Linked DNA regions of Homo sapiens. The protein of the gene in region 1 purifies or fractionates together with the protein of each later gene. This does not show direct contact. Each region holds a gene or a part of one and is shown on either strand. Other genes may lie near its edges.

The links.
Region 2: the proteins of LMX1B (region 1) and MEIS2 purify together in Homo sapiens (affinity purification with mass spectrometry; 3 studies listed by BioGRID and IntAct, with this or other methods). This does not show direct contact.
Region 3: the proteins of LMX1B (region 1) and PKNOX2 purify together in Homo sapiens (affinity purification with mass spectrometry; 3 studies listed by BioGRID and IntAct, with this or other methods). This does not show direct contact.

The regions. Positions count from the first base shown.
Region 1 is NC_000009.12:126,620,428-126,623,927, forward strand, and holds part of LMX1B (LIM homeobox transcription factor 1-beta), read left to right. Parts: intron 1-3,500. UniProt on the Homo sapiens protein: Transcription factor involved in the regulation of podocyte-expressed genes. Essential for the specification of dorsal limb fate at both the zeugopodal and autopodal levels.
Region 2 is NC_000015.10:37,034,493-37,038,217, reverse strand, and holds part of MEIS2 (homeobox protein Meis2), read left to right. Parts: intron 1-1,258; coding exon 1,259-1,404; intron 1,405-3,725. UniProt on the Homo sapiens protein: Involved in transcriptional regulation. Binds to HOX or PBX proteins to form dimers, or to a DNA-bound dimer of PBX and HOX proteins and thought to have a role in stabilization of the homeoprotein-DNA complex.
Region 3 is NC_000011.10:125,167,689-125,171,413, forward strand, and holds part of PKNOX2 (homeobox protein PKNOX2), read left to right. Parts: intron 1-3,725.

The DNA.
Region 1 (3,500 bases):
ACAGGCACCTGGTGGAACTTTAATAAATATTCCATTCTCCGGGGGATCCATTATCCTCTCCTGCACCTCAAGAGAGGTGGAAAACCTGATTGTGTGGGTGCGCACAGGTGCCAACTGCATTATCAGAAAGGGCCACAACAGGGTGGCCAGCTGTGCTGGGCTCTTTCTCCTTTGGGGGCAGACGGGTGTGCTGTGCTCTTTCTCCCTGGGGGCAGACGGAGGGTGGCCGGGTGTCCTGTGCTCTTTCTCCTTGGGGGCAGACGGAGGGTGGCCGGGTGTGCTGGCTCTTTTTCCTTTGGTGGCAAACAGAGGGTGGTCCAGAGCAACAGTATTTCCACCGGGAAACAATTGGCATCTCCAGGGCCTCCATATAGCTTGGAAAAGCTTAATAATTCATATTTGAAGAACTGTTTGTACTTACTGTTTTGTGATTGAAGCCACAGAAAATAAAGCTCAGCCAATGGAGAAGGGGGTAGGTGGAGGAGAGGTCTGGGGGATTTGTCTATTTCTCAGAAGGAAGATGAGGTTTAAAAGGTGGAGAAACACCATTCCAGGAACTCAGAAGGCCCCTCCAGCTCGGGCTCTGTGGCCTTGTGAGGTTTCCACCCATGGGTGGCTGGCGATGCTTCTCCAAGGAGCCGCCTTTGTCCTGAGGCTCTGGAGTTTCTAAAAAATAAAGAAAAGGAAGAGGAAAAAAACCAGTCCTACTTTGGCATCAGTTAGGCTGAAGGATGGAGGATACTCTCACCGACATGAGTTATAACTTCCAATTTGTTGGACACCACAGTCAAGCCTCAGCCAGGGGAGGGAGGAAGGGAGGGATAGTCTACTCATCCAAGGAGCCGCGTGTGAGCTGTCAGTCAGTTGGGGGTGCCCGAGGACCCAGGGCCCTTGGCTGTCTGGCTGACCCAGCCGGAAGTTCCTCTGGCCCTCTCCAACCAGATTCTGTGCTGATGGCAGCAAAGAGCAAAACCAAAATTATATATATTTATTACCACTGCAGTCAGAAGTGGAGAGACGGTGGTAGTGAGAGAGGGCTAAGGCTGAAAACCATATTTGAAAAAGTTGATTCACGAAGGTAGAGGAAGCAAAGTGGCAGACGTTTGCCATTTCATCGACCGGCTGGTGTTCTCCATTCATGTCATAAATGTCTCCTGTCATTTGATGCCAAAAGCAACATGATTTGGTTCCCCGGTGGCCTATAGGGTTTTTCTCTCTCTCTCTCTTCTTTTTTTTTTTTTTTTTTTTTTTTTTGCAGTAAATGTTTATTTGTTGATAATAGACTTTAAACAGCCTAGCCTTGACCTCAAGTCTCCTGAAGCATCCATCTTCTCTCAGAAAAATGTTTCAAAGTTTGTGTAATTTTGGGGGGAAGGTGTAACTGACGGGGCAGTGAAGGGCTTGTGTTTGCTTTAACTACTGCTGCGGTGAGGAGTGGTGGGGCATAAGGGGCCACTGTGCTCGGAATGGCAACTTTCTTGGGTTTCAGGCCGGCTGACAGCACTTCCTCTCTGCCCTTTACCTTTGCTTTGCCTGATCAGTACAAATAAATTTCTGCGTGGGCCCTTCCTTTGTTATTCCCTGGATAATATTGTATCCATTTCTGCTCAGCATTTTGACTGGCAGCCGCTGGACCTGCCCTGCTGACCTTGGGGCCCCAAAGGGAGGATGAGGGGCTGGGGATCTGGGGATGTGTGGGTACATTTGTGGGGAGGCTTTGTCTCAATTGGGAGCTTGGCTCGGACCAGCCCTGGACGAATGTCCTGGCTGATGGCAGAGCACCTGGCTGGCCTTGGCACTTGGTGAACTGGGGGGAAGTGTTGCTGAAGGAAAAACCCGGTTCCTGGAGCCTGGTTCCAGAAGAAACAAAGATGTTTGCTTCCTGGCCGGGCCAGTGCTGTGAGAGAGGCTTCCCCGGGAACTGTGGGGAGGTGGCTAGCTGGGGAAGGTTGTGACGGCCACCCAGAGCAACAGCGATGCCCACTGGGGCTGGCAGGAATGAGGAGGCCACCGAGCTGCTGGGTAGCTGAAGATGAGCTGAGCATGCTGAGACACAGGGCCGCCAGGGGTCCCTCCCCCAAGCGCCTCCCCAGGAACTTCAGCAGCGGTGACGGGAGGGGAGGAGCAGCACTGGGTTGGGATGGGACAAGTTGGGTGTGACTGCTGTTCCCCCTTCTCCCGCCTCCTGCCTTCCAAGGGGACTCTGTGACTCTTGTCGTGTGATTCCTGGATTGCTATAGTTACTGGGCTGTTGGGTGTGGGCGCCAGACCAGGACTGAGCTGCCCAGGCCTTTGGGGTTCCAGAGGATCAAGGTGCTCTGGGGTGACCTCCTCCAAATGGAGGGGTCCTGGGTGGGGCACATTTTCTCAAAGGAAGAGCAAGCTTGTTGGCAGTTACAGAATGGGGATCCAGAATGTCTCCATCTCCCAGTGACAAAGGCCAAGGGCCTTTAGGGAAGGACTGACAGCTCTTCCTGAGCCTCAGTTCCCTTCTCTGTGAAAAGGGGGTAGTAATTCCAATCTTACAGGGTTGCTCTGAGAATAAAGTGGAACAAACCCAGATGCCAGCCAGTGTTGGGCATGCAGTCAATGTATGTTTTCTTCCTTCCTGCTGGGAAATGAGCCGAAGGCAGCCCCGTCTGGCAGGAATGCATTGTCTGTCCTGCGTGGGAGGCCCAGAAAGTGCAGCCTCCTGAACAGGCCTCCCAGAGGGGTCTTGCCCACCCTTCTGTTCCTCACCCAGGTTGGGAGCCTGTGTTTTTATTTTTATTTTTTTTCCCTTGAAAAGGGCATGGGGCCGGTCTGGATGCCAGAGGCTGCTCCTCGGAGCCAAGGCCAGCCTGTGGATGGGCCCTCATTACTACTGAGACACGTAGGTCCCATTTTTTCCAAGAGACTCCTGAGCATGGTCAGTGTAGATGTGAACTTGCAGGAGCAGCGCCTTACTGAACAGGGAGGCAGCCTGCAGTAGTGCCTCTAGAAGGGCAAGGCATTGGCGTTTGTTGAGCCCCTGTGAAGTTCACTGTCTGTACCGTCCCAACCCTGTGGTTAGGGGAGGAAACTGAGGCTGAGCAGCTTGAACAACTTCCCCAGGCCCAGAGTTAACTCTGTAGCAGATTTTTCCCGGCCCAGAGTTACCCTGTAGCAGATTTCCCCCCCAGGCGGGTCCAACTCCCAAAGCCGGATGGGTTCTCTAAGTCCTCCTATACCGACCTTCCGGAAGGTGCGGGCTCTACATTGTTGCTAATCTCCCCCAGAACGCCCAGCCTGGGAGGGGTGGGGAGGGGGAGTCGCTACCCGAGGGCTGGGAGCAGGGTGTCACTGACCTCCTCTGCGCGGATTGCCCCCTGTAGGGCCAGCCCTGGCCAGCGGAAGAAAAAGGTTAGAATAATTGCCTTCCCCTGGGCGGGAGAGCTTCCTTCGACGTCCGGACACGCGGATGGGGCGGCTTTCAGCGGCCTCCACCCGCGCACCCCTCCAGGCCCACCTCTCGGCGGTTC
Region 2 (3,725 bases), on another chromosome or scaffold:
TTGAGCACAGAGTTTATTGTTTTAGGCTTTCTTGGACAAGGTTTTTACTTAGCATGGGATTTATGGCATTTACTGCTAATGAATGTCTATTCTTAAATTACAAAAACCCCCATCTCAGTGCAATTCCCAGATGTCCTTCCAGGACCCTGGCTTCTTAAACACCAGCAGGGAGCATAAACTCTCCACTTCTCTGTTTTCCTCTTTCGTGTGGCTCCAGGCTAATGATGTGCAAGGAAAACACAGCCATCTATAAAGCCCCAGTGCTGTCCCCGTATTCTTCATTTATTTTGCATTTGATTATGCCACAAGTCGGATCTTGTTTCTTTCCTTTTTTTAAAGTTATTAGTTCAAATATTAATGTAGGGATATGGCATATATTGCTGCTCTTGATTGATGCCTTCCCAAAAACAGGAAGACGTGCTCGTATGAATTTTAAGAAAGTAGGGGTCCTGCAATGCCTTGCCAGAAGAGTTTTTCAGATACATAATTTAGATGCCCTCCAGGCAGGCTTTCAAGGCATTTTTGCCAGAGGGCAAGAAAAAATAACTATGACTGTTAAAAGTAAATGATTTTTGCTAATGCACAATTAATGCCAGAGAAAAGCACAGAAGAGAAAGATGTTGATAGAAACTTCTGATTAAGTGAGCACCCTACCTTGATGTGTATCTTTTTTTTTTTCATGATAATGATCAGTGGTGCAGAGAGCTAAAAGTTTTCATGTCATGCAAATGCCGAGTGCAGGGTCATATGAGAAGTGTGCGAATGTGCGTGCTTAGGAGGTGACAGCTCTAGGAGGGGCTGAGCAGGCAGTGCGTTATGTGCAACGAACAGTGACACAGTTACTGTCACCTATGCAGGCAGCCTAGAATATATAGACTACAGAACATTTAACTTGATTACCCTACAGTATGTGTTCACTCTGGGCATGGGGATGCGTTTCCACTGAATAGGTTTTCTGATGGCGGTTTTCCCACATTGGATTCCATAATTGACAAAGAGCTACTGCACTGTGTCAAGTGCACAGTTATAATTGAATTAATGATATGGGCAAGTGTGAGACACACAAAATTAACATTTGAAGAGGCCTGGTTTAATTTTGTCTTTTACATATTTGTGTCTCCAATTATACTTTAATGAAAGAGAATATACTCGCTTAATGGATTTCTTTCAACAAGCTTAGCTGAGCTCATCATTAGCTGCACTTGTTGTTGGCACCTTGCGATGTTTTCTCTAATGTATTTTTATTTCTTTCTACTAGGGGATGGTTTAGACAACAGTGTAGCTTCACCTGGTACAGGTGACGATGATGATCCGGATAAGGACAAAAAACGCCAGAAGAAAAGAGGCATTTTCCCCAAAGTAGCAACAAATATCATGAGAGCATGGCTCTTCCAGCATCTCACAGTAAGTCAAGATGAAAGAGAAAAAAAAAATAGTTTTTGTTGTTTTGCTAGCAAGTTATACGGTCTCATACTGATTTTTTTTTAAACTAAGGTGCCTATTTTCTTATTCTTGAAATCTGATGACTAACAGACTAGTTAAAGTTTTTTTTTTCATCAACTATTACCATCCAAAGAGCACCCTCTAGAAAGTAGCAGGTTTTTGTTTTAAGAAGCTGGGAATGGACTTTATTTAAAATGATCTAAGACCCTAAACAGCATATATAAGTAAATTTGTTATTTATGCTAAAAGTATGAGAGCAACTTCGGATACTGCAACAGCAACCAAGGGAAATGGCTGTAAGGAGCTCACAAATCCATAAACGTTGCTGATTACACTGTTAACGAAAGCTGTCTCCTCTAGGAGGCCAAAAAAAAAAAAAAAAAAGCACCTTGCCACATGCATGTCCAAGCTCACAATATCAGGTGCAGCTTTAATTGCTGAAGCAGTTTACAAATATGTCATGTATTTATATGACAAATTCAGAAGGGTTATAGGTGCTGTAATGCCTTTGTTTGCAAGGTGGACATTAAAGATTCTTTTTTTAGCTGCTCAAGTCCATTATCTTAAAAGCTAACCATGTTCACTTCTGGAAACGGTTTTACTATGTGAGACATTTTAAAAGTAACAATTTATCTTTATCTTCCTGTTTGCAATCCTTGTATGTGTGGATACATACTGTTGACTCTAAGACTCTTATGACAAAAAAATTACAATATATTTTTACAGATAAACTAGGCATGCTTATATTTTACTGTTCATTTGGAAATTCTGGGAAACCAGTAAAAATTTCAGAGGTTGCTTCTTGCTATAATATTGTTTTCAGGCCATTCTATTTAGGCTAATACTTAAAAATAGAGTAGCACATTGAAAGCTGAAGGTCTTCTTTGATTATCCAACTTGTGTGTTGCCATGCTGAATGACATTAGTTACAGTGTCATGGGTCCAGGACAAGGTTCCACTTTTATTTATGGTGGTGGCTGCTGATGGGCTCTTCTTGCAGAGCTACAAAGGGCAAGGGGTGGAGCAGTGGTGGGGAGGGAAAAGTGATAGATTCACATTCCTAAATCGGCCATTTTGATGTAAGGACATTAGTAGCAAACTAAGGTGTATCGATCTGGCCTGTGGTGTCAGGATTAGCTGGGAGAACCAATGAGGCAGCTGTGGTAGTGGTTATTCTTGCCTTGCAGCTATGGCCATTTCAAAGGTCAGGGCCCTGCACTGACTCGGCTCAGAGGAATTAGACAGAACATGCGGTCTCTGGACTGATTACTTAACCAAAGACAAAATAATGAGTCCTAAGCAAATACTGACTAATTGAAAGGGCTGTAAATCCATTACATATTGGTCAGGGATAATCAGGAGTATTTAATCACTTTTATCTATTCAGGAGCACTGAAGCTGCAACAGCAAAGCCCTGAACCTTGCCATGTGGTTATTATTCTCATCATTATCAAAATTACTTCACAGCTGTTCTTTGCTACATCACCTCAGCTGGAGATTTACTAACCTGTAAAATGTTTTTAATTTGGAAGTCGAGTGACTGTGAGGGGAGGGGTTTCTCATTTTTAAATGAAGGTTTGTTTGGTTAGAGTAGCAACTAAGAACGGCAGTGTAGCTGCGGATGACAGGCCAGCTGCCTTCTCCTGACCAGCTCACCTGTTTGGTTCCCTCCCTCTGTCCTCCTCCATGCTTGGTCTTTCTTGGTCGAAAATAAACACTTCAACAGCTGCTTTCCAAGCAAACAGCTACGTGTGTTTTCAACCTCTCTGTCATCAAAACCAATGTCAGAGAACAGTAGAACCTTAGAGAATGCAGCTGCTCTGTTTATAGATGAGGAAACAGAGACCCAAAAAGGGAAGTTACTAGCTGAAGGTCAAGCTGAGACAAGGGCCCGAGACTTCCAAGTCCCCAACTCTGTGATTTTTCCACATTACAATGACTTTGCCAAAATGACGATCACCTTTAACAGTTGCATAGAAATCTCACAGTCTCCACCATCAATACGCTCAGAGTCACAAGGGAGAAATACGGAGAAGCCAAGTGCTGTTTTCTTTTCTTGTTTTGAAAGCTCCGTGTTACCCAATATAGAAAGCCTTACCACCTGTATTTTGTGAGTTGAATCTCACATGGGAGTGTCAGGAGCCCTTAATACCTTATCTCCCACCTCCCTGCCCAGGGCGGCACCCAGCATGCACCATGGCCACCGATTAGAGTTGTGGGTGGCTGGTGATTTCTGGGCACTTGTTGTACCTCTGCTGTGCTACGAACTAACAGTAAGAGCT
Region 3 (3,725 bases), on another chromosome or scaffold:
TCTGCTTTTAAGTCTATAGATTGCTTTAAGTTAATGAAAGTGCTGCTTTCAAAAGGGGCTTTTATTGTGTGGCAGTGGCAAATCCAGTACCTCCCCTTTACTCTTCCAAAATGGGCCTGTTTAAAAAGAGGGAGCTTGCTGGATCCCACATGGCAGAGCTTGGGGGAGGGTGCCATGTGACAATGAGAATTAATAAAAGTTAATGTCCAAGTGATTCTGAAAGACGAGTTTGCTTCTTTTCCAGTCCGGTTTCATCTGTTCATTCTCGTGTTGCCTTTGGGCTTTCACTGAGTCTGCCTTTAAATGTTGCTTGGTGCCTCCCCAGCAGCCTCTCCCAGCATTGCTTTAGGTAGGCCTGACCCCTGTTCAGTTAAACCCAAACTGGATTTCAGGATTTCAGCCCAGCTGCCAATTCAAACTGCAACTAAAATATTTACTTGGGACTGGGGGAGGGGCTTTGCCTCGCGTTTAGTAAGATAAATGTGTTTAAATGCCTGGGAACCTTGAGAAGGAACAAGGCAGGCTGTTTTTCAGTGCTTTTTGCTTTTTCAATCTGTTTGGCACAAAAGGTGAGATGACAAGGTTTTTGACTAGGTCCTAACACAGAAACTGCAGTGGGCTCAGGCTGTGGCTTTGACCGCATGTCATAACCATTTAAACTGTGGTTAGTTGTTCAAAGCTCAAAGCTTCTCCAAGCTGGGTTTCATTAACTCTACACCAGTTGCCTGGAAGTTCAGTAGCAATAAATTGTATAAACACATTTGAAGTAAGTTAGTGATGAAATAAGTAGAATTACTGTCTTGTGAGTGGAGAATCCTGAATTCATGGAGTTCTAGCTTAACTGGAAACATACCTCCTCTCCCTTGGCCTTGAAGTTTATGGGTGCACCAGAGTGTGTGTTAAATTTCTTTCTGCCATGTCCATCTTCAACCTGGGCTGTAACTCATTAGAGACCAAGGCATGCCTAGAAAGCAAAACGGCTGGATTTTAAAGGGGTCTCTATTAGCTTGGTTTAGGAATCAAACCAAACCAATTGACCTGACTTCTTTACCTTCCGTGAATCCAACGTGCAACGTAAACAGCAGCAGAGCAGGGGAAAATTAGATGTTTAAATGTTAGAGGCTTAATAATACTGCGTTGTTAGCAATTGAATTTGTTTTTATTAAAGAAACAACCAATAAAATTTATAGGCTTCCAACATGTTGCAAGATTTCCTTGCTATTTATTTAGCTTCCCCCTCCCTACTTTCTGAAATTCTATCTCTAATCTCAGGCTTTTGTTCCCGATTTATTTAATCTGGAGCACATTTTCTAAATTAGTTCGAGGAGGGTGAGAAAGGCTGTTATGAGTTTTCCTTTTTCCTACGCTGTGTGGCACAAGGACTGCGATGCTGTAAGATATATATAAACGTGTGATGCAATTGCTGGAGGTGACGGCATGTGAAGCCAAGTGTCTGGATCAAACAAAACGCAGATCCGAGCATGGAGAGGGTGAAAACGATGCTGCAGAGGAAAAACTGAGGAAGTTCTAATGGAAAATGAAATCATCATGAACCACCGTTAGCCTGAGTCTAGCCAACACACCATGCTTTGTATAAAACACTTCACGTGAGATCCGTGACTTATTGAAGACTGAATTATACTGAGAAGCAGAATTTAGAGGGAGGAGCTCCACGGGCTGGGTTCTATCCAGGCAGCATGGCCAGGATTGTTGCGATGGGGATCTGCTAATTTAATTAAATCTAATACCTGGTGGGAAAGGGAGGAAGGAGGGAGGGAAGTGGTGGGCAGATAATCAAGGTTGGCAGGTCAGCATGCTGAGCTAGTGTTTAGGCTGAAATTTAGTGGCCTGGTCTCTTTTGACTCTGTTATTGCCAGGGCTGCATGACTCCAGTGGGTCATCTAGCTTCTGGGCCTTGGTTTCTTCATCTGTAAAGTGGAATGTATCACACACAGTTCTCACTAGGGTGAGATGATGGGCTTGGATCAAGCACAGGCTGCGCTCTGAGTAAAAAAAATGGGAGATAGAGGCTTCTCAGCAGCAAAGTCACATTCTTCGGTGTGTTTTCTTTCCTCGCCTGGCTCCAGGGCCTTCCCCACAACTCTCAGGAGTTCTTAGGCTATAGTAAAGGGGCTGAATTCCTGCCTTGCATTACATCCTAGAATTTGAAAGGCCTGCTGTGACTCCAAAAACCATCTACACTTTACCAAGAGGGGCAATTTTGGCTGAGTTGGGGGATCCAGCCCGCTTCTTCCAAATGGTGTTACCTGGAATAGCTGTCCTGTATCAGACGAATGCAGAATCTGACTTATCAGAAATGCAGCCCCTTCTCTTTATTCCACTGGGAAGGCAAGGCCTGAGCCCTGACTGGTGTGTGTGTGACATCTGGTCGGCTGAGGGGGTTGGGTGCTGGTCTGCAGCTAGCCACGGCCTGAACCTCTCTTAGCAGTCTCTGCTGGCAGATCAAAGCAGATTCTGGGCCAGAAAGCCCAAGAAGTTACACCCGGCACTTACACAAAACTGTGTGTGCGCTCGTAGACTCCTTCTGTTCCGGTGTCTGATTTGTAAAAGCTAGCTCTGATCCTGGAGACGCGGCTCTGGTGGAATGCTTGTCTTTAATACTCCCTAGTCTTTGGGGATTCCTTGGGGTAATTTTTCCTCCTCATTTCCTTCTCAGCCAATCACAGGCAACATCTTAGTCTCCATTTTGATTGGGGGTGGGAGACAGGGCTGGGGGTTGAGAGAGCAACAGTTGGAGGGCACAGTCTTTCTACCTGAACTCCAGGTTTTCCTCCCGTCCAGAACCCCCAGGAGAGAGGGAGAAGCAAGCCCGGGACAGCTCAGTTCATCTCACGCGGTCAAGCAGAGCTTGAGAAGAGCTTGCTGCAAATGCGTTGTCTTCAAGGGGATCTGCTGTTTGGCTTGGATGCCTCACTGCAGGCCCGGCCTGCCTGGGTTTCTAATTACAAGAAGGACGTTTCTGCTAAGACCTATCTCACTAAAAACACATCCCTGTGTGTAATAAGAAACCCTAAACCAGGCAGGATATTTTAAAACTGAAGCAATGAAGATTAGATTAAGTCTCCACCAAACAGCTTCGTTCTTGTATTATTTTTGGCTGGAATGTGGAGAAAAGCAGCTGGCCCTGGGGCCCAGAGCAGACTCTGGAGAGTTCGGATAGGGCCGGGGTGGGTGGGGTAACTGTTAGTTTTCTGCTTAGTAGGAACGTGGCCAATTTGAGTACGGCTCAGTCAAGGCAGTGGGGGTGCCCAGTGGGGGAGGGGGGAGGCTGGGGTGGAGGAGGAGCCAGATCCAGATGGGCCAGAAAGCGGCCACAGAAGCAGCAGGTCACAGGGCACTGAGGCTTGTAAATCCTCCACCTCATTAGGACGTAGTCTTTTGTGTTCAATTTACATCTCTACTCACATCGCCATCCCAAATCTAGTAGAGAGGGAACAAATAGTTGTTGAGGATTCTTGGAAATAGAACCCAGTAATCGGGCATCATGGGCAGGTGTCCTGCCTTGCTGGGGAGGGGCAGCATGGCATTCACCCATTCCCTTTGTTCTTCCATTCAGCAAATATTTATAGAGCATCTTCTGTGTCCCCGGCACAGTCCTAGGCATTGAGGAGACAGCAGCAAAAACAAAGCCAAGACATTGCCATGAAGCCTGTCCTCAAGGAGCTTGCTTGTGGTGGGGGCGGTGTTGAGTATGGGCTTTATTT